Linked DNA regions of Homo sapiens: regions 2 and 3 are each linked to region 1. The links come from fine-mapping of genetic effects on gene expression. A gene starts in region 1. Each other region holds a variant in brackets. All regions are shown on one strand. Distances are between the middles of the regions. Region 1 holds the start of SMU1 (SMU1 DNA replication regulator and spliceosomal factor). Region 2 has its middle 8.3 kb from the start of MIR12117. Region 3 has its middle 59 kb from the start of APTX.

Region 1 (9,948 bases):
ACAGAGTATAGTTTACACTCCCCACCCTCCACTGCCCCACGTTTTCTTTCTTTCTTTTTTATTTTTATTTTTATTTTTTGAGACGGAGTCTCACTGTGTCACCCAGGCTAAAGTGCAATGGTGCAATCTCGTCTCAGGCCAACCTCCGCCTTCCGGGCTCAAGCGAATCTCTTCCCTTAGCCTCCTGAGTAGCTGGGATTACAGGCATGTGCCACCATGCCCAGCTAATTTTTGTATTTTTGGTAGAGATGGGGGGGTTTCACTATGTTGGCCAGGCTGGTCTCGAACTCCTGACCTCAGATGATCCACCCACCTTGGCCTCCCAAAGTGCTGGGATTACAGGCGTGAGCCACCATGCCTAGCCTATTTTAATTTTATTATTATTATTATTTTCTTTAGAGACAGGGTCTCACTTTGTCTCCCAGGCTGGAGCGCAGTGGTGCGATCATGGCTCACTGCAGCCTCAAACTCCTGGGCTCAAGCCAATCCTCCCGCCTCAGCCTCCCAAGTTGCTGGAACTACGGGCGTGTGCCACCATGCCAGGCTAATTTTTCTGTGAAGAAGGGGTCTCTTGCTATGTTGTCCAGCCTTGTCTTGAGCTCCTGGTCTCAAGCAATTTTCCCACCTTGGCTTCCCAAAGTACAGGGATTATAGGTGTGAGCCACCACACCTGGCCAATCAATATGTGCTATTTTTTAGAGAAAAATTAATCAATTTAATTGTACCTGTAATTGACTGAATAAAAGGAAACTGAAGTGAAACCAAAAGAATTGTTGAACTTATGTAAATGTTTCTTTATCACAAAATATATTATTTTCTAAAAGATCTTTCCAAGGTTAAAAAAGGAGAGTAAGAAAAGTATTAAGGGATTGGAGTTATTATTTTGGAGCAATGACTAATAGGCATCTCTTTAACATGTTCTCAATACTATTAGGCTCAAGGACCTCCAAATCTCTTGTAACATCCCTTTTAGTGTTCTGAAATTCATAAGTAATATAATCTACTTACACATTGGGAGGCCAAGGCGGGCGGATCACTTGAGGTCAGGTGTTCGAGACCAGCCTGGCCAACATGGCGAAACCCGTCTCTACTAAAAATACAAAAATTTGCTGGGCATGGTGGTGCGTGCCTGTAATCACAGCTACTTGGGAAGCTGAGGCAGAAGAATCACTGGAACCCAGGAGGCAGAGGTTGCAGTGAGCTGAGATGGTGCCACTGCACTCCAGCCTAGGCAACAGAGTGAGACTCTGTCTTAAAAAAGAAAGAAAAATCTACTTACGCAGATAATGAAAAAATCAATATAATGCTAAATATATAGGAAAAATAAAAATAAATTAATTTGTTATAAAATAGAGTAATATGTAGTTCAATATCAAAATCCTAGGGTGTTACTACAAAAGACATAATGAAGCAATAAGATGCTCACATCTATAAATAATGAACAAGCTTGGATGTAATAGGAGTCATAAGAAGAGAAGCCATTCCATTCAAAATGAAAGCAGAGGTGTGGTGGATATTAGAATAAAACCTGGTGTTAAGTAATCATAGAGAAGATTTATTTGTATAAACAAAATAGAGAAGTAACCTGAATTTAAGAGTAACATGACAAGTACTAGGTAGAGAAAATGAGGACATATGCTATTGTTGCGATGAGCTGGGTCTTCTTTTCAAGGAAGAAGTTATAATAATTTTGTGCTGTTATGGGATAGAATAGTGAAGGAGTATCTCATAAACCATATAACCCATGTTGATATCTCACTACATGTCAAGGCAAGCATGGAGACTCTAAAACATTTGAAACCTTGGAGACCATGTCCTTCAAGAATTGATAGGAAATAGAGGATGATTTGACAAAAGAAGCAGTATTTAAGAGGTTATGGACAAGTTGTATGGCAGACCTTTAGGCACAGAATCAGATAAGACTGAAAGCCATCAGGAAATCTACAAATACATCATTTCAATATGTAATTTCGGAACACAGATTTATTTTATTTATTTATTTATTTATTATTTTTTGGTCACTCGGTCACCCAGGGTGGAGTGCAGTGGTTCGATCTCTCCTCACTGCAACCTCTGCCTCCCGGGTTCAAGGGATTCTCCTGCCTCAGTCTCCCGAGTAGCTGGGATTACAGATGCACACCTATCTGCCTGGCAAATTTTCTTATTTTTAGTAGAGACGGGGTTTCACCATGTTGGCCAGGCTGGTCTCCAACTCCTGAACTCAGGTGATCCACCCGCCTCAGCCTCCCAAAGTGCTGAGATTACAGGCGTGAGCCACCACGCCTGGCCAGATTTATTATTACTGTGCTGCAAATAATTTTTACAATTTATATACAACAGCAATAAAATATTTAAAAATAGGTTTTATGTATGAAGTTCACTGATATCTCTACATTTCATTTGTCACTACAAATGTAATAATGTGTTTGACCTAAAGTCCCGTGACAGGGCGTGGTGGCTCATGCCAGTAATCCCAGCACTTTGGGTGGCTGAGGTGGGAGGATTGCTTGAGCTGGAGGGGTCGAGGCTGCAGTGTGCCACGATCGAGACACTGCACTCCAGCATGGGCAACAAAGCGAGTCCTTGATTCAAAAAAACGCAAAACCAACCAACCAACCAAAATCCTCAATTAACTCTTCCTATAAATTTTGGCTAGTGTTATGTTGGTTTTGAATGTATTAATATCCCATCAGGTATTGCATATTCAGCCTCATCTTAAATCTAATCAACTAATTACATCAAACGAAAGCAACATTGGCTGGGCGCAGTGACTCACGCCTGTAATCCCAGCACTTTGGGAGACCGAGGCGGGCGGATCACGAGGTCAGGAGTTCGAGAACAGCCTGACCAACATAGTGAAATCCCATCTCTACTAAAAATACAAAAAATTAGCCTGGCGTGATGGCAAGAAACCTGTAATCCCAGCTACTCCGGAGGCTGAGGCAAGAGAATCTCCTGAACCCGGGAGGCAGAGTTTGCAGTGAGCCGAGATCGCGCCATTGTGCTCTTCAGCCCGGGCGACAGTGCGAGATTCCGTCTCAAAAAAAAAGCAATCTTTCCAAACCAGTGCTCTTTCTTTTCTTTCTTTTCTTTTCTTTCTTTTCTTCTTTCTTTTCTTTGCTTTTCTTACTACAATCTTATCACCACTACTTTTCTTTTCTTCTTTTGAGACGGAATTTTGCTCTCCTTGCCCAGGCTGGAGTGCAATGGTGTGATCTCGGCTCACCGCATCCACCTCCAGAGGTGAAACGATTCTCCTGCCACAGACTCCCGAGTAGCTGAGATTACAGGCGCCCCCGCCACCACGCCCGGCTAATTTTTTGTATTTTTAGTAGAGACGGGGCTTCACCATGTTGCCCAGGCTGGTCTCGAACTCGCGCGCTGGGAGTACAGGCGCGAGCCACCGCGCTCCGCCCCAGCGCTTTTCTTTTTCAGTACATTTGTGAGCTGTATGGCGCCCGGTGCTTTTTTTCTTTTTCTTTTCTATCTTTCTTTTTTTTTTTTTTTTTTTTTTGAGACGGAGTTGCGCTCTTGTTTTCCATGCTGGGGTGCAATGGCGCGATCTCGGCTCACCGCAACCTCCGCCTCCTGGGTTCAAGCGATTCTCCTGCCTCAGGCTCCCGAGTAGGGATTACAGGCATGCGCCACTACGCCCGGCTAATTTTGTATTTTTAGTAGAGACGGGGGTTTCTCCATGTTGGTCAGGCTGGTCTCGAACTCACGACCTCAGGTGATCGCCCGCCTCGGCCTTCCAAAGTGTTGGGATTACAAGCGTGAGCCACCGCACCCGGCTCCGGCCTGCTTTTAAACAGTCTTCCTCCTGATGCGTATTTCTCTGGGGCAGGGGCATAAACTCCGCCCTCTGACAGCCCCTGAGGGCTCCGCCCCTACGCGAACCTCGCCCCTACTCTTCGTTCACTCTATCTCCAGAGCGGGAGCCAGACGCCGACCCAAGCGGAAGTGACGTTAGGTGTCCGCCGGAGGTGTCGTTGGTGTGTTGCGCGACTGGCCTTGAGGGAGAGCTGGGGCCTGCTCCCGGAGAGATACGGCTATGTCGATCGAAATCGAATCTTCGGAGTGAGTCCTGCGGTGGGGATGTTCGCGCCTTGCCGGGGGCCTGGAGGTTAAGGGTGTGGGGCGGAGGGTACTCGGGAGAAGGCATCCGAGAGGCCAGGGAGTGGAGGGCCATTTCCTTGCCCCCAAAGAAGCATCTTGGATCTCGCTACCTCGGAGGTGGGCCCACAGGAAAGTAGCAGCTCTCAGACGTGAAGCCCAAAACCTCGAGGGAGGTGGCACGGGTGGGGAAAACACACCTTGCAGACCTAAGTTCTGTCCTTGGCCGACTGCTGGCGCGCTGTGATTGACCAAATTAAGGATCCACTCTGGACTCCAGTCTAATTATCTGCGCAAGGGGATAGGTCTCTTTAAGCCTTGCTTCTCTCCCTGTCCAGCTTATGCAATGTGATTCGTTGTCTCTGCTTATACGGCCCCTTTGCTTTTCTCTGCCTAGCGTTTATCACTCAGTATTGTCACTGTTTGATAACCTCACCCCAAACTAGCCTTTGTCGGTGCCTAGGAGCTCCTTTTCCTTGTGGTCTCAGTGTCTAGCATACCTTAGAGGAAGAGTTAATTGCTTTTGGAATGAATGAACAACTAGCTTTTGGAATGAATGAACAACTATCAGGCCCGATCTGGCACGGAATTTTGGGTTGTCTGGGGAGAGACAGACTGGAGACTGGGCTAGAAAGAAAAATTTTCAAGGAATAGGGGATGAGAATTAGTGACTAAAGAAGACCTTAGTGTGCTTTTCCAGAACTCCATCCTCCACCTGTCCTTGCCAACACTTAATAATAATTAAATTAACAGACATAAAAATTGTGTCTGAGTGTAAGGGAGGGAGAGGACCTTTTTTGGAGACTTTTCATAGGAGGAAGGGAGGTTTATGCATTCAGCAAATACTGAAATGATGTTAACCTACTTGTCCAAGGTCACATAACTTTGATTCAAATCCCAGACTATCTTCAAAGCTTCTAGCTCTTTATGTATTCATTTCTGTTTGAAGGTAGGGAATTTGATTTTGGCTATGTCAAATGTGAGCTGTTTGAGGAGAGAGATGACTTATTTTGGGAGTGTAAAATGGAAGTCAACGGACATGTGCTAAGGAAGATAGTATCATAGCAGAATAACAGGGGTCTAAGTCTGGATACCTGCATACCTCATAAAGGGGCCATGAGAGAAAAAGACTACTGCAGGTAGCAGCAATCAGTTCCCTTTTTTTTTTTTGAGACGGAGTCTCACTCTGTCACCCAGGCTGGAATGCAGTGGCGCGATCTCCGCTCACTGCAAGCACCGCCTCCCACGTTCACGCCATTCTCCTGCCTCAGCCTCCCGAGTAGCTGGGACTACAGGCGCCCACCACCATGCCCGGCTAATTTTTTTGTATTTTTAGTAGAGACGGGGTTTCACCGTGTTAGCCAGGATGGTCTCGATCTCCTGACCTTGTGATCTGCCCGCCTCGGCCTTCCAAAGTGGTGAGATTACAGGCGTGAGCCACCGCGGCCGGCCTATAGTTGTTTTTAAGAAGAGGGGCCAGGTGCGGTGGCTCACACCTGTCATCTCAACACTTTGGGAAGCTGAGGTGGATGGATCACTTGAGCCCAGAAGTTTGAGACCAGCATGGTCAACATGGCAAAACCACGTCTCTACAAAAAATACAACAATTAGCCAGTGTGGTGGTGCATGCCTGTGGTCTCAGCTACTCGGGAGGCTGAGGTGAGAGGATCACCTGATCCCAGGAGGCCCAGGCTGCAGTCAGCCACAATCACGCCACTATTCTGTCCAGCCTGAGCGATGCAAGTGACCATTTCTCAAAAAAAAAAAAAAAAAAGAGGATGTTTGCTTTCTCCTCAGGAATACATGCTCTAGAGCCACACTGCCAGTTTGAGTCCTGATTTTTCCACTTATTATCTCTATTATCTGATCAAATCCTCATCTGTAAATTGGGGATAAAAGTAAACTTACCTCATAGGTTTTATTTTATTTATTTTTTTGAGACAAGGTCTTGCTCTCTTTCCCAGGCTAGAGTGCAGTGGCATGATCACGGCTCACTGCAGCCTCAACCTTATGGATACAAGCAATCCTCCCACCCCAGCTTCCCAGGTAGCTGGGACCACAAGCACACACTATCATGCCTAGCTAATTTTTTTTTTTGTGTGTGTGTGTGTGTAGAGAAGGGGTCTTCTTATGTTGCCCATGCTGGTCTTGAACTCATGGGCTCAAGGGATCCTCCCACATCAACATCCCAAGTAGCTGGGACTACAGGCACATGCCACCATGTTTGGCTAATTTAAAAAAAAATTTGTAGAGATGGGGTCTCACAGCTGCCTGATCTGGTCTCAAACCTCCTGGTTTCCAGCCAATCCTCCTGCCTCAGCCTCCCAAATTACTGAGATTACAGTCATGAGCCAGCATGCCCAACCTCATTTAGATTATTTTGTATAAATAACTAGTCTAGTCATTTAAAGTATTTCAGTGAAGTGTGCTACAATATAATTACAAGAATGAATAGGAAACTAGGCTCTGGATTAGGAAATAAGATAGTCACCTTGACACCAACTCCCTTTCTAGCTGACTGAGACATTAGGCAAATGATTTCCTTTCCTTGAACCCCAGTTCTGTCTCTATGGTTAGGGGGGGTCCCCTTATAATTTAGATTCTGTGATTTTGGAAAATTTTACTCACATGATAAAGAAATAGTAGTGAAAGGAAGATGATTGAGTAGGAGCTTGATAGGCTTTATTTTTGACCTCTGGTGAGTGAGAATCCCTGAGCTGAACGATTTGTTTTCTTTCAGTGTGATCCGCCTTATTATGCAGTACTTGAAGGAGAACAGTTTACATCGGGCGTTAGCCACCTTGCAGGAGGAGACTACTGTGTCTCTGAATACTGTGGACAGCATTGAGAGTTTTGTGGCTGACATTAACAGTGGCCATTGGGATACTGTGTTGCAGGCTATACAGTCTCTGAAATTGCCAGACAAAACCCTCATTGACCTCTATGAACAGGTAAGAGTGGTGGTGATGCTGATCCCCATGGGTTGGTTCGTTGTGGGCCAGCTCCCCAACTAAAAAGCGTCAGTGAGCATTCCTTCAAGCACGGTAGGGCTGCATCAGCCCATACAACAATGGCAAGGCTTGACATTGTATTTTTTCTCCCTTCTTGGAAAATCCAGGATTTCCCAAATTAAAATTCTTTCCTTTTTTTGAGACTGGATCTTGTTCTGTTACCCACTCTGGAGTGCAGTGGCAAGATCACAGCTTGCTGCATCCTCCATTTCCAGGATCAATCCTTCCTCCTGCCTCAGCCTCCTGAGTAGCTAGGAACACAGGCACGCACCACCACGCCTGCCTAATTTTTGCATTTTTCTGTAGAGACAGGATCTCACCATAATACCCAGGGTGGTCTCAAACTCCTGGGCTCAAGCAGTTCGCCAGCCTTGACTTTCCAAAGGGCTGGGATTACAGGCACGAGAGAGCCTCAACTTTCTAATCACATAGTTAGTCTTTCTGATAACTAGCTCCTACCTATCCTGAGCCATTTCCTTTGCACAAACCCAGGTGTGATTCAAGGGGCCCAGGAGTAACAAAGATACCCCTATCACTGGTCAAATTCCAAGAAGCTCCAAGCCAAGAACCTAGGACAAAGATCAGACAAATTTGTGATTATAAAACAGCAGAGTAGACTTTCTGGAAATAAGATTGTAATTTGAAGTAAAAGTAGTGAAATTGGTTTTTGGTTTTTGTTTACGGGTTTTTTTTTTTGTTTTTTTTTTGAGACAGAGTCTCACTGTGTTACCCAGGCTGGAGTGCAGTGGTGCGATCTCTGCTCACTGCAACCTCCATCTCCGGGGTTCAAGCGATTCTCCTGCCTCAGCCTCCCGAGTAGCTGGGATTACAGGCGTGCATCACCACGCCCAGCTAAGTTTTGTGTTTAGTAGAGACGGGGTTTCACCACATTGGCCAGGCTGGTCTCCAACTCCTGACCTCAAGTGATCCACCTGCCTCAGCCTCCCAAATGCTGGGATTACAGGTGTGAGCTGCCGTGTCTGGGCAGTTTGTTTCTTTACAATCCGTATGAGTTCAATAATTCCCAAAGAAAATTTTGGTAACTGGAGAAAGGTTTCTCTGGAGCCCATGGGTATATTCCCATCTTTAGCTTTCTTTGGCATCTACATTCTGAGCAAGAAGCCTGAGAGGAGGGGAGATTGGTAGATAAAAATGAAGGATAGAGTTTGAAGGATTGAAATTATTATTTATTTATTTATTGAGACAGATCTCGCTCTGTCGCCCAGGCCAGAGTACAGTAGCATGAGCTTGGCTCACTGCACTCTCCGCCTCTCGGGTTCAAGCAATTCTCCTGCCTCAGCCTCCCAAGTAGCTGGAATTACAGGCATATACCACCACACCCAGCTAATTTTTTTTGTATTTTTAGTAGAGAGTCTGTTTCACCACGTTGGCCAGGCTGGTTTCGAACTGCTGACCTCAAGTGATCCGCCCATCTTGGCCTCCCACAGTGTTAGGATTATAGGCATGAGCCACCAAGCCCACCAAGTCCACCTGAAATTGCTAGTGAAAATGGAAAGGGGCACTTCCTGGTATTGGAAATCCTTTGACAGGCCATATCTGTGTTAGATATTTTACCGAAAAATATTAATAAGACGGTGTGTTGAAACATCTGGGGTTTTTTTTGTTTTTTTTTAATTGTCCAGGTTGTTCTGGAATTGATAGAGCTCCGTGAATTGGGTGCTGCCAGGTCACTTTTGAGACAGACTGATCCCATGATCATGTTAAAACAAACACAGCCAGAGCGATATATTCATCTGGAGAACCTTTTGGCCAGGTCTTACTTTGATCCTCGTGAGGTATGACTGTGGTAATGAAAAGGAACTTTTTGTTAACTTTGGAAATGAAATAACATGATCTTTTTTTTTTTTTTTTACCATTTTATTGTATACTCTTTGTGATTTTGATTTAATTTTTGAGAATGATGCTTCTCTGTTTATATATGTTGGCTGAAATTTGCGTATGTTAAAGAGAATAATTTTGTTCAGTTTTCTGATTATTTGAGTCTTCTATACACCTCAGTTTAGAGGATTGCGTGTTGGTTAGTAAAAAAAGCAGAACATTTTATTCTGATGTCATTTCCACATTAGCCCTCCCCGAAGTGCTGCCTGACTGCTGGTATGTTCACTGATCATTTGTGTGTCTTGCCCCTAACAATTGTAGTTTCCTTCTAGCCTTTTTAGTCCCTAGAAGCTTTTGTTTCTTCGCGGATTATGCTTACCAGTAGAGCATGATGATAGTCTTTTATTCTTCCAAAACGTTATTATCTGTATAGTTTCATTCTTCCTAAACCTTATTATCTGTATGGTTTCATTCTTCCTGCCCACCCCCCCAGCCTTTTACTAGAGGTTTGTCAAAATAGGAGGAAAAAGGATTAAAAAAAATTTTTTATGGGTACATAGTAGGTGTATATATTTATGGGGTACATGAGATATTTTGATATAGGCATGCAGTGCATAATGAGGGTAAATGGAGTATCCATCACCTCAAGCATGTATCCTTTGTGTTACAAACAATTCAATTCTTTCAGTTATTTTAAAATGTATAATTATTATTGGCTATAGTCACCCTGTTGTGCTATCAAATACTATTTCTTATTTATTCTTTATATTTTTTGTATCTATTAACCATCCCCACTTTCCTTCTTACCCCCGCCACCTCCACCCTTCCCAGCCTCTGACAACCATCCTTCTACTCTCTATCTCCATGTTTTAATTTTTAGTTCCTGCAAATAAATGAGAACATGCAAAGTCTGTCTTTCTGTGCCTGGCTTATTTCGCTTACCATAATGAGCTCTAGTTACATGCATGTTGTTGCAAATGACAGG
Region 2 (9,034 bases), 25 kb before region 1:
TGCAGTTCATTTACTTAGCACGTCACTGCACTCCAGCCTGGGCAACAGAGTGAGACTGTCTCAAAAAAAAAAAAAAAGGTAAAATGATGCATTTTCTGTTATGTGTATTTTACCACAGTATGAAAAAATAAGAAGACTCCTGTGGTGAAGGCTTCGCCTGGTCTGTTCTGCTCTGGAGGTGGCAGCGCATGGTGGTTAGTCCCAGCATCTTCCTGGAGATTTGAGCGTGAGACGTGCTGGCTGTGTGGGCTGTGCCACCTGAGGAGGATTGGCCAGTCATAAGGACTCAGCCTGGTTGCTGAATCCAGCTGGGGACCTTGACCCCAGTGACTGGCTTTTCAGCGGCTACCTGTTCTCGAGACAAATGCTGTCCTCCCCTAAGGAGTCTGGGCTGTGGCAAAGCTATGACATAGGTACAACCGTCCTTTTGCCAGGTGGGGCTTAGGTGGAGAAGTTGAAGCCTGGACTCAGTCAAGATCTCAGGACTGGGAGCAAGGAGCCTCTTACTCCCAGGGTGCCCACTTGGTTCCCACTGACTGTTGGTGGAAACTAGGGGCTGAGCTGGAGGCTTTTTAGAGGAAGAAATGACAAGCTGGGGGCTGGATTATCCCTGGGGGTGAAAATGGAGTCAGCTAGATAGGTTATGTCTTGAAGGAGAGGAGGGTCCCCTGGTGTCAGGAAGCAGAGCCTGAACTCCATGTTAGACCCTGGATTGGAGAGTGGGCAGGACACTTGGGAGAGACAGGACTTGGTACTGGCGAGGGTACTACCACACCCATTCTGGGAGTGGACTATAGAGAAATAAATCCTAAAAGTGGACCTATCTTTTGACCTCACAAGTCAACTTCTAGGAATTCATCCTAAGAAAACAAAGTCACACCCCAAGATGTATGTGCGTCAGTGTTCGCCCTAGTGCTGTTTGTAGCCCTGGAAAATGAGAAGCCACCGTCAACGGGGGACTGTGCTAAGTAAAATGAAGTACATCCAAACAATCAAGTACTATGCAACCATTGAGAATGATGAAGTGGATCTATATTTATCGATTGGAAAGAGGCCTAAGGAAACAAAGGAAACTACAGAATGGTCTTTCCATATGAGGCAGGGAAATGTATGAATAATTTAGTGCAGAAATTACTCTGTAATTGTTTCTGGGAGCAGATGCATGAGCAAAAAATTGAAGATGATTTTCCTTCTCTACATAGCCTGGGGCCAGGCCCCTGTTCTAAGCGTCCCCGCCCCACCCTGGGCTGAGGCCTTTGTTCAGAATGTTGGCCCTGTTGAGAGGACATGCTGGGTTGTCTTCTGGGAGGAGTTGCATTCCCCATAAGTCCCCCAGTCTTGGAAGGGTGATGCAGGGTTCCTCCCCTGGGGGAATGGTGGAGGCCTGAACTCTGTTCACAGGTGGTGGGAAATGGCATGGCTGTAGGAAGGTCTGAGAAGGCAGAATGGGAGCTCAACACAGGCTGGGGGGGCTTCTGGCAATTCTCTCAGGTTTAGAAAAATAGTTACAACATTTCTTGCCACTCTTTTGTGAGGGCAATTGAACTGTCAAGCCTCAAGACACTAAAGAATGGAAAGAATGCGGTAGGAGAGGAACACTGTCTTGGCTCTGGAGGGGCGAGATTCGCCTCTTGTGCCTGATCAGAGCTCGACAAGGGGGACCCCTTTTCTAGTAGATCTTTGACTCCAGAATCTAGGAGCCCTGTTGCAGAGGGAGGCCCTGACATCTGGATTTTGACACAGACCTGAGCCTGGAGCTGTTGGAAACTCATTTCTGGGACAGATGTGGAATGCTGGACAATCAAACGTCGCCGGGGCCTTTGGAGTGCTCCCTGTGTCCTGTTGCGGTGGCCACAGTGACTTTGGTCTCCCCTGATGACAGAAGCACAGGAGAAAGGCCAGCTCCATGGCCCAGCTCTTAGTTCCCACCTTCCTCCAAGGCGGGCCTGTGGGGCAGGGAGGGTGCAGGTGGACTCGTGAACCCCTCACCCGTGTTCACCCTCCATGAGCACACTCGGCGCTTTCCCACGTACCGTGTGTTGCTCCTTACAATAATTCCAGCATGGGAAACTTAGGCTCAGGGAGCTCACATGACTTGCACAAGGTCACACAGAGTTTGGGTCTGACACAGACCTCCTGAGTCCCAGGCTAGGGCTCTGGCCACTGGACCATGACCCAGCTCCTCATCCACACAGTGTGGGAGCAGGGCGATGGAGGCTGTGAGGTTCCTTGCCCCAGCCAGGGAAGCTGTGGCCTCAGCAGCACTGCCGAGAGAAGTACAGCCTGGATCCAGGGCTGGAGCCAAGAGCACCTTTGGGATGAGATTGTTTGTGTTTTGTTTTGTTTTCCCTTTACTGTTTTAGAGGACTTAGGAACCTAGTAAACTTGACAGCGACAGTTCCGTATACCAGGGGCATTGCATTGGTGTCACCACGGTCTGGGAGATGTACAGGAATGGTTAACACTGAAACAATCCATGAGGATGCAAGGAGGCCTGAGGCGTGGGGAAGAGGGAAGAAGGGAGACTCCTGAGGGCTGGGGATGCAAGTGGACCTGAAGACATGGGGTTTTCTGCCTCTGAGGCATCACTCTGGGCAGCAACAACCAGTTCCTGCTTCATGGACAACACAGCTTCTTAATCCTCCTGGACCTGCCCTGCCTGGGCCAACACCTGGTGCTCAGGAGGGCTCAGCACAGTGTCTGTCTGAAGACTGCGGGGACCCAGAAGTCCAGGTGGAGACCTAGGATTCCCCAATAAGGCCTAGATGCCTGCTTAGTTCTCCCTTTCTCTTCTGGGCACCTTTCCTCCCCGACTGTACACCCTCTTCCCAAGGGAGAGCAATTGCCACACTATTCCAAGACCCCC[CT/T]GTAAGTTCTCAGCCAAAGGCATTTTCCTAAGCAAAGCCAGGGGCTGTGGTTTGTTTTGATGACAAGCTGAATCAAGACTGCTAAAAAGCAGGCTGTTGGGTTTAACTTCATCAACTCCAAGCCTCAATGATTTGTGTTCCATGTGGTTTGCTCTGGATAGACACTGACCTAGTGACAATGAGACTATGGAATGGGGAGAGAAGAATTGCATGCTGAGGACAGGAGAAATCTTCCCCATGAACAATTTGTCTGTTGGGCATGACATCTCATATGTCAGCTTGGGCCATTCCTACCAGCTTGGAATGCTCTGTGTCTGACTCAGATGCTGTGTGTGTCTCAAGGGCGCTGGGCTTGGTGGCCTCTGTGAATTTGGCTGGCAGATCTTGGCCCTGCTGGCTCCCAGGATCCATGGGCACTCTTCCTGTCTTGGGTCTACCCTGTCGTGCAGGTTCACTGCCCACAACCTCCGGGAGACTGTTCCAAGGGTTTTCTTTGTGGGAGACAAGGCCTGCCAGGCCTTTCCCTGGCCCCTCTCCAACCCTGATGTCAGTACACATCCTAGCATACTGCTGGGAATGCCTCAATTTGAGGGAGTGCAATTAGTTGAGGGAACTGAGGAAGTGCTGTAATGGGAGTCTAGGGTTGACCCCTGGGTGACCAAGGCCAGAATGTCAAAGGCGTTTGAACCAGAGCAACTCCATCTTGAACTGGGGCTGGGTGAAATAAGGCTGAAACCTACTGGGCTGCATTCCCAGAAGGTTAGGCATTCTTAGTCACAGGATGAGACTGAAGGTTGGCATAGGATACAGGTCACAGACCGGGCGTGGTGGCTCACACTTGTAATCCCAGCACTCTGGGAGGCCGAGGCGGGTGGATCACTGGAGGTTAGGAGTTTGAGACCGGTCTGGCCAACATGGCGAAATGCCATCTCTACTAAAAATACAAAAATTAGGCATGGTGGTAGGCGCCTGTAATACCAGCTACTCGGGAGGCTGAGACAGGAGAATCGCTTGAACCTGGGAGGTGGAGGTTGCAGTGAGCCGAGATCACACCATTGCACTCCAGCCTGGGCAACAAGAGTGAAACTCCGTCTCAAAAAAAAAAAAAAAAAGATACAGGTCACAAAGACCCTGCTGATAAAACAGGATGCTGTAAAGAAGCCAACCAAAACCCACCAAAACCAAGATGGTGATGAAAGTGACCTCTGGTGTCCTTACCACTCACTATATGCTAATTATAATGCATTCGCATGCTAAAAGACACTCCCATTCCCATCAGTGCCACGACAGTTTAAAAATGCCATGGCAATGTCTGGAAGTTACCCTATACGGTCTAAAAAGGGGAGGAACCATCAGTTCTGGGGGAAATCCCCACCCCTTTCCCAGAAAACTCACGAATAATTCACCTCTTGTTTAGCATATAATCAAGAAATAACTATAAGTATACTCAGTCAAGCAGCCCACTCCGCTGTTCTGCCAGTGGAGTAGCCATTCTTTTATTCTTCTGCTTTCTTAATAAACTTGCTTTCGTTTTACTCCATGGACTTGCCCCAAGTTCTTTCTTGCACAAGATCCAAGAACCCTTTCTTGGGGTCTAGATTGGGATCCTTTTCCTGTAACAAGATCATCTCTCTACTCCCCATCTGGAAACGGGGTCAGGAGGCTACGAGGGCCTTTCCAAGCTGCCATTTTGTATTTCTAAGAAAACTCTTCAGCCTGATTATAGTTACTGCTAGGGTGCTAAAGACAGGACTCTTATCCTCCCTCAAGGTCTCAAAGCCAGAAACAAAGGTCTACTTTGTCAATCCAGGAAACTAGGGAAGGGAGGAATGGAGGAAGGGCAGTCCCTGGTAGTTCCGAGGGATCCCCCAGGGCATGGCCAAGAGGCCAAAGGGAACTAGGCCTCCTCTGCGTGTTTTCCTGGAAGGCTCTACTGCTTTTCCTTCTTCAGCTGGGTTCTACCCCTGAACCAAAGCCACAAAAACACAAAGTTCAGCTTAAAAAGTAAAACACAAAACTTGTCCCAAGAGTCTCTGGTGACCTAGTTCTGGTGACCAAATTCTGGCCTGAGGCTGACCCCAAGGGAACCTCAGAGCATCAGCCTCTCACAGCGCCCTGGGGGTATTCAGTCCTGAGTACCTTGGCTGTAAGGCCAGCCCCCTGCTGAAGTCCCCCTTGCCAGAGTCAACCAGAGGGCCACTCTTTTTCAAAGGGACTTGGTGGTCAGGTGCCAGCTGTACTTTACCAGAGAGGAGGGGAACCCAGTAGGAGCTTTAGGGCTATGGGCCAAGGAGACCCTGCCAACCTGGAAGGCAGTAATTATCTCCTCTGCAGGTATTCACAACATTTACTGGGTCACAGAGCACCTCCATAGCTTGGGAGGCCTGTTGCTCACCACAGCTTTGGGACGTGACATGGTGGTTGGCCAAATGTAAAGAGTATGGACTTTAGAGCCAGATACGTTTGGGTTTAAAGACTTGGCTTCAGGCCGGGCATGATGGCTCATGCCTGTAATTCCAGCATTTTGGGAGGCCGAGGCAGGCAGATCACCTGAGGTCAGGAGTTCGAGACCAGCGTGGCCAACTTGTTGAAACCCTGTCTGTCCTAAAAATACAAAAATTAGCCAGGCGTGGACTCTATCTCAAGACAAATAAAAAAATAATAAAGACTTGGCTTCACCACATAGTCACTGGGGAACTGTAGGCAAATTGCTTTTTTGTGGACATCCACAATTATCCCAGTACTGTTTATTGAAAAGCTGTTGTCCTTTCTCCACTGTACTTCAATGCCACCTTGGTCATAAAGCAACTGTCCTTTCCTGTGAGGGTCTGTCCCTGGACTCTATTCTAGTTCATGGCTTTATTTATCTATCGTTGTCCCACTACCATACTGTACCTTTTTACTGAAACTTGTTCTTTTTTTATTGAGTGTCTTGGCTCTTGCATTTCCATAAGAACTTTACAATCAGCCTCTCAAGAGCCACCAAAAAACCCCACCATAATCACCCCACTTTTTGAGATATTGATTGAAATGCTGGTAAGTTTATGGATCACTATAAGAGACCTGATATCTTTAAAACATCAAACCTTCAACGTATAAACAAGATAGAATCCTCTTTTGGTTTAGGTCTTCTTGCATTTCTTCACAGGGATCTTATACATTTTTATTATTTTTTCCCAGGTATTGTATATATTTTTACTCTTTTTTATTTTTTGAGACAGAGTCTTGCTCTGTCGTCCAGCGGGGAGTACAGTGGCATGATCTCGGCTCACCGCAACCTCCGCCTCCCAGGCCCAAGTGATTCTCCCACTTCAGCCTCCTGAGTACCTGGAACTACAGGCACATGCAACCATGCCTGGCTATTTTTTTCTATTTTCTGTGGAGACAGGCTTTCACCATGTTGCTCAGGCTGGTCTCGAACTCCTGGGCTCAAGTGATCCACCTGCCTTAGCTTCCCAAAGTGCTGGGATTATAGCCGTAAGCCATTGCGCCCAGTCTATTTTCACTATTTTTAAATAAATGATAGCCTTTTGAAACATATTTTTCTTTTGTTGCTCATATATGTAAACACAATTTTCGTATATTGACTTTGTATTCAGTAACCTTGATAACTAATTCTAATAATTTTCTCCACATTCATTTGGATTTTCTAAGTATCTTCTACGAAGATTTCCTGTCATCTTTAAATGTTTCTTCCGGCCGGGTGCGGTGGCTCACGCCTGTAATCCCAGCACTTTGGGAGGCCAAGGTGAATAGATCGCTTGAGCTCAGGAGTTTGAGACCAGTCTGGGCAACATGGCGAAACCCCATCTCTACTAAAAATACAAAAATTAGCCACGGATGGTGGCACGCGCCTGTAGTCCCAGCTACTTGGGAGGCTGAAGCAGGACGATCACTTGAACCCGGGAGGCGGAATTTGTGGCGGGCCGAGATCGCACCACTGCACTCCAGCCTGGGCAACAGAGCAAGACTCCGTCTCAAAAAAAAAAAAAAAAAAAGATGTTTCTTCCTTTCCAATCTCAAAGCTTTTATTTCGTACCTTCCTGTGCTGTCTAGGACTTTCATTACAATGTTGAATAGCGGTAGTAGAGAGGTATTTTCATTTATTCTAAGTCTAGATCTCTAAAGGAAAACTAAAGTTTCACCATTAAGAAGGGTATTTGATATAGTTAAGAATGATAGTTGAAGGCCAGGCACGGTGGCTCACGCCTGTAATCCCAGCACTTTGGGAGGCCGAGGCAGGTGGATCACCTGAGGTCGGGAGTTCGAGGCTAGCCTGACCAACATGGAGAAAACCCGTCTCTACTAAAAATACAAAAAAATCAGCCAGATGTGGTGGTGCATGCCTGTAATCCCAGCTACTCGGGAGGCTGAGGCAGGAGAATCACTTGAACCCAGGAGGCAGAGGTTGTGGTGAGCCAAGATCATACCATTGCACTCCAGACTGGGCAACAAGAGTGAAACTCCATCTCAAAAAAAAAAAATGATATTTGATATAGTTTTATGTAGACTTTCATTATACTAAGAAAATTCCCTTCTATTCCTTGTTTGGTAAGAGTTAAGTTTTTTGTTTTGTATTGTTTTGGTTTAATCATGAATGGATGTTGAATTTTATTAAATGCTTTTCGGCATCTATTAAAATGATCACGTGATTTTTCTCCCTTATTCTGTTAACGGGGTAGATTTCTTGGATTGGTTTTCAAGTGTTAAGCCAAACTTGCATTCCTAGAATAGAAACAATTTACTCATTATGTAGTGACCTTTTTATCTATAGCAAGATTTGGTTGGCTAATCTACTATTTAGGATTTTTACATCTATGTTCATGACCAAAATTAGTAGGTAATTTTCCTTACTCATAATATCCTCCTTAGATTTTCATATCGCTGAAAAAGTCTTTTTCCTTTTTATTTCAATCTCATAATTATGTTCAAAGGAAAAAGTTTTGTGGCCAAGCACACTGGCTCATTTCTATAATCCCAGCACTTTGGGAGGCCGAGGCAGGAGGATCATTTGAGCCAGGAGTTTGAGGCTGCAATGAGCCATGATCACACCACTGCACTCCAGCCCGGGTGATAGAATGAGAAGACCCTGTCTAAAAACAACAACAGAAAGGCCAGCAATGGTAGCTCAGGCCTGTAATCCCAGCACTTTGGGAGGCCAAGGTGAGCAGATCACTTGAGGTCAGGAGTTCTAGACCACCCTGGCCAACATGGTGAAACTCTGTCTCTACTAAAAATGTCTCTCTCAAAAGATCTTATTGTACTATGCTTACCTATTTTCAGATTGCAGTTGACCATGGGTTAATGAAACCATGGAAAAGGAGACTGTGGATAAGAGGGGGACTACAGTAGTCAGAATTTTAGGGGACAGTGTTCTGTGTATGTCTCTTAGGTCAAAGTTGTTAATTGTATTGTTCAAATCTTCTATTTCGTTAATGAATTTTTTTTTTTTTTTTTTTTTTTTTTTTTTTTTTGAGATGGAGTCTCACTCTGTTTCCCAGGCTGGAGTGCAGTGGCGCAATCTCGGCTGACTGCAAGCTCCGCCTCCCGGGTTCATGCCATTCTCCTGCCTCAGCCTCCCGAGTAGCTGGGACTACAGGCACCTGCCACCACGCCCAGCTAATTTTTTGTATTTTTAGTAGAGACGGCATTTCACTGTGTTAGCCAGGATGGTCTGGAATTCCTGACCTCATGATCTGCCCGTCTCAGCCTCCCAAAGTGCTGAGATTACAGGCATCAGCCACCATGCCCGGCCCTACCTTAATGAATTTTGAAATCAAATCTTCTATACTCTTTGCTTGTTGAAAATTTCCCACTAGGCTTGTAGCTTTTTCTATTTGTCTTTGTAGTTCTATCAGTTCTTACGTCTTGTGCTTTGAGACTATGTTATTAGAGATTTAGCAATTTAGGATTGTTGTATCTTCTGGGTTTAAGACTTTTTGGCCGGGCGCAGTGGCTCTCAGCTGTAATGCCAGCCCTTTGGGAGGCAGAGGTGGGCGGATTGCCTGAGGTCAGGAGTTTGAGACTAGCCTGGCCAACATGGGGAAACCCCATCTCTACTAAAACTACAAAAATTAGCCAGGCAATGGTGGTACACGCCTGTAATCCCAGGTACTCGGGAGGCTGAGGCAGGGGAATTGCTTGAACCTGGGAGGCAGAGGTTGCAG
Region 3 (9,948 bases), 130 kb after region 1:
CGATGACGACGTTTGCAGGGTTCAGGGCGACCAGGGAACAAAGCTGGGGCCTGGCAGACCCACTATGCTGCCAGCTGGAGAAAACAAGTCACAATGACAAATTATCACAATTAGCACCTGTACTTGGGGGAAAAAATCTGCAAATTGGGGAAGCCCCAGCTCCTCATTGTACAGGGGTCTGTTTGGCAGTGACCTTGCTCTGGAGATGACATTCCTTCAGCCTGAGGGAATCGACGTTGATGAACCCGTGGCATCAATCGGCTCATAATCCCCCTGCACGTTCATGCTCACCAGCTCCTCGTTGTAGAGAGACAGTGGGGACTCCCGACCGAGGATATACACCTGGCCCTTGAGGACAGACACCTGCACTTTCCCTTCCACTCATTCCTGGGACTTGGCATTACAGTGGCGGACAAATTCACACTCAGGGCTATGCCAGAAACCGGTATACACCAGCTCAGCAAATTTCAAGCTCAGGCCTTGTTTGATTTTGCGCACTTCTCGGTACATGGTGAAGGCCTTGATGTCTAAATGAGTGTGGTGAAGGATGGTCCCTGCTGGGGCCTCGCAGATACCTCAGGACTTCATTCCAATGAAGCGGTTCTCCACGATGTCAATACGGCCCACGCCGTGCTTGCCTGCAACTTCATTCAGGTACACGAAAAGCTCCAAGGAGGTCTGGTGGGTGGTGCCATCCTTGACGTTGGTCACCTTCACGGGGACCCCTTTTTTGAACTTGATCTCGAGAATGTCAGGGGTGTTGAGGGCTTTGGCTGGGTCCTGGGTCTTCATGTAGAGACCTGGAGGCACTTGGTTCTTGGGGTTCCAGGATTCCAGCCTCATAGCTGATGTGCATGAGGTTCTCGTCTATGCTTCACGGGCTCTGGGGAGTGACTGGAATGGGAACCCGATGTTGCTTTGCCTATTTCATCAGGTCATTGCAGCCCTTGAACCGGTTGTAGAACTCGGGCATCCTCCAGGGAGCGGTGACCTTTATCTGGGGGGCCAGCAAATAGCAGGTGAGCTCAAACCGGACCTGATCATTTCCTTTTCCCGTGGTGCCGTGGAACACATACTTGGCCTCCTCCTGCTTGGCGATTTCCACTTGTTTGCCGGCGATGCCGGGCCTGGCCAGAGAGGTGCCCAGGAGGTAGCGGTTCTCATACAGTGCGCTGGACTGGATGGCCGGCCAGATGAACTCCTCCACAAACTCCCTGCTGGCATCCTCAATGAACACCTTTTTGGTCCCAAGCTTCAGTGCCTTCTTCCAGGCTTCCTCGAAGTCTTCCTTCTGGCCAGTGTTGGCCAGGTAGGCAATGATGTCATAGCCTTGTTCCTTCAGCCACACGAGGATGCAAGAGGTGTCCGGGCTGCCACTGTAGGCCAGAACCACTGAGCCTTTGCTGGACATAGCATCTGGGATTGGAGGCTCGAGTTCCTGGCATCTGCCATCTGTCTTCATGGTACGGTGAACCACTCGGGCTCAGGGAGCGGTGGCAGGCGACAGAGCAGGGAGTATAATTTCAAAATACCAAACCATCCACAAAAACCCAGAGAATAGTACCCATAACCAGCTTCAACAATCGTCAATATTCTGCCCTTCTTGTTTCATCCTGCCTCTCCACCTTACCTACTGTAGTACTACTTTAAAGCAAATTTCAGAAATCAAAATAGTTTCACCTTGACAGTAAAATTAATAAGATATAAGACCTATTTAAAGTTATAAAAGCTCAATTAAAATTATAAATGTTATCTGAACAAATGGAAAGACATCTCATGTTCTTTAATGACTTGGAAACATAAAATCTATTTAAAGATTTTTAAAAATTTATTTATTTATTTATTTTCAGAGACAGGGTCTTGCTCTGTTGCCCAGGCTGGAGTGCAGTGGCAGGAGCATAGCTGTACTGCAGCCTCATACTCCTGGGCTCAAGGGATCCTCCTGCCTTAGTTTCCCAAGTAATAAGGAATACAGGCACGCACCACTATACCCAGCTAATTTTTTTTAAAGACGAGGCCTTGCTATGTTGCCCAGGATGGTCTCAAACTCCTGGCCTCAAGAGATCCTCCTGCCTTGGCCTCCTGAAGTGTTAGGATTAGAGGCATGAGCCACGGTACCCAGGCCTGAATTTTTAAATATAAACCCAAAAGCACAGGCAACAAAAGTAATAATAGACAAATGGGATTGTATCAAACTAAAAAGCTTCTGCACAGCCAAGGAAATAATCTACACAGTTAAGAGACAACCTACAGAATGGGAGAAAATATTTGCAAACCATACATCTGATAAGGGATTAATATCTAAAATAATAAGGAACTGAAACAACTCAATTGTAAGAAAACAAATAATGCAATTAAAAAATGGTCAAAGGATTTGAATAGACATTTGTCAAAAAAAGACAAACAAGTGACCAAGCACAGTTATCTTTTGGGATCTGTAGGGGATTAATTCCAGAACACCCTGCGGATACCCAAATCTGCTGATGCTCAAGTCCCTGATATAAAATGATAACAGTATTTGCATATAACCTACACACATCCTCCCATATACTTTTATTTTTTTATATAAAGACGGGGCTTCACCATGTTGGCCAGGCTGGTCTTGAACTCCTAGTCCCAAGTGATCCTCCCGTCTCGGCCTCCCAAAATGCAGTGATTACAGGTGTGAGACATCATGCCCAGCCCCCTCCCATATACTTTAAATCATCTCTGGATTACTTATAATACCTAATAAAATGTAAATGCTATATATGAATACTATCCAGCTTCAAGAAGGAAGGAAATCCTGCCATTTGTGACACCCTGGATGAATCCAGAGGACATTATATTAAGTGAAATAAGTCAGATACAGAGAGACAAATACTGCATAATCTCGTTTGTACGTGAATTCTAAAGAAGTTGAACTCATAGAAGCAGAGAGTGGAATAGTGGTTATCAGGCTGAGAATTGGGCGTTGGGGAGATGTTGGTCAAAGGATACAAAATTTCAGTTAGGAGGAATAAATTCAGGAGATCTATTGTACGGTATGGTGAATACAGTTAATATCAATGCATTGTGTTCTTGAAAATTGCTAAAAGATTAGATTTTAAGTGTTCTTACCTCAAAAAAAATAGGTATGTGAAGTAATACGTTAATAAGCTCAATTTAGCTACCCCACAGTGTATACATATTTCAAAACAATATATTGTACACAATAAATTATATAATTTTTGTCAATTAAAAATATTAGAAAAAAATACATTGGGCCAGGCATGATGGTTTATGCTTGTAATCCCAGCACTTTGAGAGGCGGAGGCAAGAGGAACTCTTGAGGCCAGGAGTTCAAGTCCAGCCTGGGCAACATAGACCCAGTCTCTACAAAAATTAAAAAACTAGGTGAGTGTGATGGCATGTGCCTATAGCCCCAGCTTACTCAGGAGGTTGAAGTGGGAGGATCACTTGAACCCAGGCGATCAAGGCTGCAGTGAGCCATGTTCATGCCACTCCACTTTAGCCTGGGCAGTACAGCCAGAGCCTGTCTCAAAAAACAAAAACAAAAGTAATTGGTTACCTCAGAGGGGTAGGTTTGGAAGATGTGGGGTATGGACGGGGCTGATTAAGTTTTTTTTTTTTTTAATATATCCCTGTATTGCTTCATTTTGTGCACAATCTTTAATACTTTTATAATACAAAAAAGAGAAATTTTAAAAATGTGTTTGCTCTATCTCCAATGTCTAGAACAGTGTTTGGCACATATTTGGCATTCAATAAATGTTGGTTGCATAAATAAACAAATGGATTTTGTTAACATTTGTTGAGTACCTGCAGCGTGGTAGGCATTGGACAGCAGGTACTGCCTCGTATTTGTGTGGTCTATAAACCATTTGAGTTAATTGGATTCTGGTATATCAGAGAGCAAACTACATGCCTTCAAACATAACAAACGGAGACAAAGTTACAGCTACTCCTCTAGCTAAAGACACTACCCCTGCTCTCTGAGTGCATCATAAGGATCCTACTGATGTTTATTTCATATCTTTGATATACAGGCACACACCGTCCACACTTCAGGCAATCATTTACACACTGAGTGGGAGTGTGATAAGGGCATGTGGAGTAGGAGAAGTTTTCTGATCCGAACTTTACTGACTGCGCTAGAAAACCCTGATGATATCCTTTCCAGTGTTTCTAAGAACAATTCTTCCATTTCTAAGCATGATTCTTCCATTTCTAAGCAGCATGTTGTCTGTTTACTTATGATTATTTTTTACTTGTTATCTGTAAATGTTGGGGTGATCAGACCCAACACCAGGTCGTGGGGGCAACGAAGTCCTGCTGAGTCAAAGGAATGAGAAAAAGACAGTTTGAGAGAGAAAGTCGGACCAGGGGGCCATCCTGAGTGTGGAGCCTGTGAAGGCCCAGAGCTTTGGGAGCCCACACTATTTAGTGGTGCTCAAACAAAGAAACAGGTGGTGAGGATGTGGGGGTTGAAAGGAAACAGTGTATCAAGTGAATGAAAAACATATGGCGGCTTGAGATAATGGGAGTGCTAGAAGCAAGGAGCCAAGCAAGTCTAGCAGACATGCAAGCCCTGCCTCAGCTTCTCTCCGGACACTCAGCTTTTTCTCCCAACAGTAAATAAGGTTCTTTTTTATTTAAAAATAAGTAACAATTTATTTTCTTTTCAGAAATTTGGCTCAGTTGACAGGGTTGAGTTTCTGCAGTGATTGCTGAATTATTAATTAATTAATATTATTATTTGAGACAGAGTCACTCTGTCACC[T/C]AGGCTGGAGTGCAGTGGTGTGATCTCAGCTCACTGCAACATCTGCCTCCCCAGTTCAAGTGATTCTCCTGCCTCAGCCTCCCAAGTAGCTGGGATTACAGATGTGTGTCACCATGCCCAGCTAATTTTTGTATTTTTAGTAGAGACAGGGGTTTCACCATGTTGGCCAGGCTGGTCTCGAACTTCTGACCTCAGGTGATCCACCCACTGTGGCCTCCCAAAGTGCTGGGATTACCCACATGAGCCACCATGCCTGGCCCAGCTTCTTATCTGGTCTTTTTGTCTCCCTGCTGTTGCCACCTTCTACCCCCTTCAAATCCACACTCTACAGCTTCTAGGGATTATTTTTTTGAAAACGCAAATCTAACCATGTATATCAGACACATCTTCCCTACCTCTGTAGATTCTCTCAGCTTGATCAATTTCACAGACCCTTGGATTATTGTTCTATGCAAGCCCCTGCAATTCCACTTGAGGCCGACCAACCATACTCTTGGCTTCTCCCCTACTTCTGGGTAAAGAAGTCAGGGTTAAATCCTCTGGGGCAACTTTGACGAGCAGGAGAAAGGAGTCCCTTCCATGGACTTGTCCGGGGCACGGTTTTCCCACATACCCTGTCCAGGGACATCTTGTGTGGCCAAGCAGTGTACTTTTTAGCTTTTGAGTAAAGCTAAAATGGGCTTTGCCTCTTTATGGCTTGTCATAAAGCAGTAAGCAGTTGCATTTGTTTTCAATTCTTCCTTCACTTCACTGCTCTGAGGCTTTACTTCCCAATAAAATTTTAGCACCTTAATCCTACCCTTAAGCTCTGTTTTCTAGGGAACTTGGGCTAAGATATGAAGTTATTTTCTGCTTGAAAAGCTTTCCTTGGCTCTTTATTGCTTCCAGAAGTGTTTATGGGGATGGGGACAGCCGTTTGGAGATTAGTAGGATTTCTTTTCTAGTAGGTATGGGTGTGTCTGAGCATAGTATTTTATTTAATTACTTTGCTTTTTTTCCTTTATATTAAAGATATTGTATTATTAAAAATTAGGAGTGCAGATAGGTTACGTGATCCATGATTTTCACTTCAGGATAGTAAAGGGCAAGCTACAGAATCTTTCAATAGAAAGGGGACATTGGTAGAGACAGGGTTTCACCATGTTGGCCAGGCTGGTCTCAAACTCCTGATCTCAGGTGATTCACCTGCCTTGGCCTCCCAAAGTGCTGGGATTACAGGCATGAACCACATCCACCATGCCCAGCCTTGTCTCTGCTAAAAATACAAAAATTAGCTGGGTGTGGTTGTAGGCATCTGTAATCCCAGCTACTTGGGAGGCCGAGGCAGGAGAATCTCTTGAACCTGGGAGGCAGAGGTTGCAGTGAGCTGAGATTGTGCCACTGCACTCCAGCCTGGGTGACAAGAGCGAAACTCGGTCTCAAAAAAAAAAAAAAAAAAAAAATGGAGACATTGGGTGTAACAGGATTGAGTGAGACTTCTGATTACAGGGTCTGGTCCGAATCGCTCAATTTGACATACCTGGTCTCCCTGGTCTACTGTTGCCCCCTCTGCAGCCTTGTATCCTACTGCATTCTTCTTCCAGCCCTCAAGGTCCAAGACAGAAGCATCTGCCCTCTGGGTAGCAGGATGAATGAACAGATGAAGGGTGTCAAGGGCTCACACAGATTATCTGTTAAGAAGGTTCTTGGAAATTCCGCATGACTCTCTCCTTACTTTTCTGTGGGCAGAAAGCCCATGTGACTCCACATGGCCTCATGTGACTAAGCTTTATGGGAGGCTGTGAAATATGCACTTTATTTTGGGCAACTACATGTCCAATTAAAATTTTTATTATTATGGAAGGAGGACAAAATGAAAATTGGAGATGTTGAAAAGTCTCTGCCAATGTTCCTTTGCACAAGAAAAAAAATCGAGTTGCCTCTCTTTTTCTTTTTGACTTATTTATTACTTATGTTGCAAATATGTTACAGATTTAGATGTTTCAATCTTTTAACTTCATTTGAAGATTTCTCTCATTATACAAAGTTTAACAATTATGCAACTCTGTGGTCCCCAACCTTTTTATTCCTACCAGGAACCAGTTTTGTGGAAGACAGTTTTTCCATGGACTGGTGGTGATGGTTGGTGGGGTATGGATGGTTTCAGAATAAAACTGTTCCACCTCAGATCATCAGATATTAGGTTCTCATGAGGAGCACACAACCTAGATCCCTCGCATGCACAGTTCACAATAGGGTTCACACTCTCATGAGAATCTAATGTGGCTGCTTATCTGACATCAGGCAGTAATGCTCCATTGCCTCACCTCTTTCTGTGAGACCCAGTTCCTGATAGGCCACAGACCCGCAGTCTGGGGGTTGGGGACCCTGATGTAGCTAAATTAGGCATTCTTTCCTTTTTTTCTTCATTGTTTCTGGATGTTTGTGTTTTGCTTAAATAGGCCTTTCCTGTCCATATGTTCTTACATTTTTTTCTGGTAATTTTATACTTTTGTCTTTTGACTTGAAGTCTTTATCATATCTGGCATTTTTTTTTTGGATGGTATAGTGTGAGGTAGGGATGCATCTTTATTTTTTTCAATTTTTACCTAATTGCTACAACTTATTTATTAAACTAGGCTTCATTTCTCATTCCTTTGAAATGCCATGTTTATGGTAAGTTAAATTCCAATACATATGAGTCTGTTATGGACTCCCTGTTCTGGTTCCATTGAGCAATTACTCAACTCATATCACAATTTTTATTACTATAATTTTCTAGAAATTATTTTTTTTAACTTTAGGTATAGGATCTCACTATGTTGCCCAGACTTGTCTTGAACTCCTAGGCTCAATCTTCCTGCCTCAGCCTCTGAGTAGCTGGGAGTACAGGCATGAGCCAACACGCCTGCCTTGTAGAAATTCTTTATTCTCCCTTCCTTTTCTTCTCCTCTTCCTCCCTACTTTTGTCTTTCCTACTTCCGTTTAACCTAGCCAAGCTAATACAGTACCCCCATGAAGATGAGGCAAGCAGGTGCATGCTTCATTCTCTATCTTCTCAACTATAGCTTCTTCTGTACCTTTCCTACTCATCACCTTTCCATTTCTTTGGTGCCCAGTATCATGCCTTCTAGGTCTTGCATTGTGTGGAAATTCTAGAATTAATAGGATTGCTACTTGTAGTTCAAACTTTTTTTTTTTTTACACTTCTTTTTGGACCTGCATTATGCAAAATCTTCTGTTTTTCTCTATTGCTGGAATTAAAAATTCTCTTTAGGTTCTCTGAAGATGTAAAAACATCACTGACACCAGGATATATGGATTCACCTCTTTCTTTATTTCCTCCTTTATTCATCTTCTTTGACTGCCTGATTGGTTTCTTCAGGAAGGATGAAGCTCTTCTCTGACGTAGTGAGTGGGTGAATCTCAGAATTATGTGGCACATGAATGAGTTACATGGTGCTCAGTAGTCCCATATGGTCTTGTGAACAATTTGTTGCCCCAGATTCTGGCTGAATTTGTCCTGGATGCAGATAATAAGGAAGTTCATGTGACTCATAATGATGAGAAATAGGAGCATCCCTCCTTATGTTCCACCTCCCAGGGCTCTTTGGACTATTCTACTGTGACCTACCTTGACTTTCTCTATGGTCACGGCCTATCTGAACAGTGTTCTTTTTCTTAAACATTTTATTAGCTCAGCCGGGTGCGGTGGCTTACATCTGTAATCCCAGCACTTTGGGAGGCTGAGGCGGGTGGATCACAAGGTCAGGAGTTCAAGACCAGCCTGGCCAACATAGTGAAACACCGCTTCTACTAAAAATACAAAAATTAGCTGGGCATGGCCTATAGTCCCAGCTACTTGGGAGGCAGAGGCAGGAGAATCGCTTGAACCCGGGAGTCGGAGGTTGCAGTGAGCCGAGATTGCACCACTGAACTCCAGCCTGGCAACACAGCAAGACTCTATCTCAAAACAAACAAAACAAACAGAAAACATTTTATTAGCTCAAATAGTTACTCTTCCAGATGAATGTTCTATGCAACTTGTCAGATTCTATTTTAAAAAATTAGGATTTTCCTTTGATTATTTTTAATTTATCAATTAATGGGAGGGGTATTGCCCATATTAACCGTGTTGGATTATCAGAACAGATTTTGATGCCAAGAGCTGGGACTGTAGTGGGTTTTGTGTGTGTGTGTGTGTGTGTGTGTGTGTGTGTGTGTCTAGAATGGTGGTGGTGGGAGGTAAGCATGGAGGGCTTTCCTTTATAGTGTCATTTTCATAGCAATTTTAGAGGGAAAAGTAAATTTGCTGGCTCACTCTGCCATCGTGGACTAGAGGCTCTGATAACTTTTATGAGATAAAACAATCTATATTTAAAAAGGATTCAAGGCCAAATAAGCCAATACAGTTTAGTTTACCTTAAAATGTTAATACATTATAAAGTCACTGAATAATACACATGGAAAAGTTGCCATAGTAACAGTCATTTTCATGAAGTGGATTTAGATACTAAATTCTTGAGTGATGGCATGCCTTGTTATTTGCTTTAAGGCATCTTTAGTACTCTTTCTTGTCTCCTTGGGGAATAGAAAATGGGAAAGGGACTTGCACCTGATACAGTTCTGTGGTTGAAAGCCACAGAATTCAATTTTGGCTTATTTAAGTTGAAAATGTATTGGTAGGATGAAGGGATGGTTCATAGAGTTAAAGGAAATGTGGAAGAGAGGGAATTCAGAGAGGGGCTTTGGAGGGATCAGAAATTTGGAGCAACTCTGAGGACCTGGGGATCAGTAATCATGGGACAGCTTCTGGTATGGTTAGGCTTTGTGTCCCCACCCAAATCTCATCTTGAATTATAATCCCCACAATCCCTACGTGTCAAGGGAGAGACCAGGTGGAGGTAATTGAATCATAGGGGCAGTTTCCCCCATGCTGTTCTCATGATAGTGAGTTCTCATGAGATCTGATGGTTTTATAAGGGACTCATCCCCCTTCACTTGGCACTTCTCCTTCCTGCTGGCTTGTGAAGAAGGTGCCTTGCTTTCCCTTTGCCTTCCACCATACCATGATTGTAAGTTTCCTGAGGCCTCCACAACCATGCTGAACTATGATCAATTAAACCTCTTTCCTTTTTAAATTATCCAATCTTGGGCAGTTCTTTACAGCAGTGTGAAAATGGACTAATACAGCCTCTTTAGGGCAA

Evidence for each region.
Region 2: its variant is fine-mapped to the expression of SMU1 in stomach (GTEx, PIP 0.91).
Region 3: its variant is fine-mapped to the expression of SMU1 in transverse colon (GTEx, PIP 0.97). The same link has a PIP of 0.9 or more in esophagus muscle.

What each region holds. Positions count from the first base shown.
Region 1 is chr9:33,070,712-33,080,659 of GRCh38, reverse strand. It overlaps SMU1 (SMU1 DNA replication regulator and spliceosomal factor), which reads left to right and starts at 3,986. Exons shown (of 12, transcript NM_018225.3): 1 at 3,986-4,077; 2 at 6,854-7,064; 3 at 8,768-8,920. The coding sequence starts at 4,052. RefSeq lists enhancers at 3,605-3,804, 3,975-4,124.
Region 2 is chr9:33,095,866-33,104,899 of GRCh38, reverse strand. It overlaps a transcript of B4GALT1 not described here. Among named protein-coding and RNA genes, the nearest start is that of MIR12117, 8.3 kb to the left of the region's middle. The variant CT/T (reference allele first, on the strand shown) is at 2,867.
Region 3 is chr9:32,937,459-32,947,406 of GRCh38, reverse strand. It overlaps the pseudogene ASS1P12. Among named protein-coding and RNA genes, the nearest start is that of APTX, 59 kb to the left of the region's middle. The variant T/C (reference allele first, on the strand shown) is at 4,763.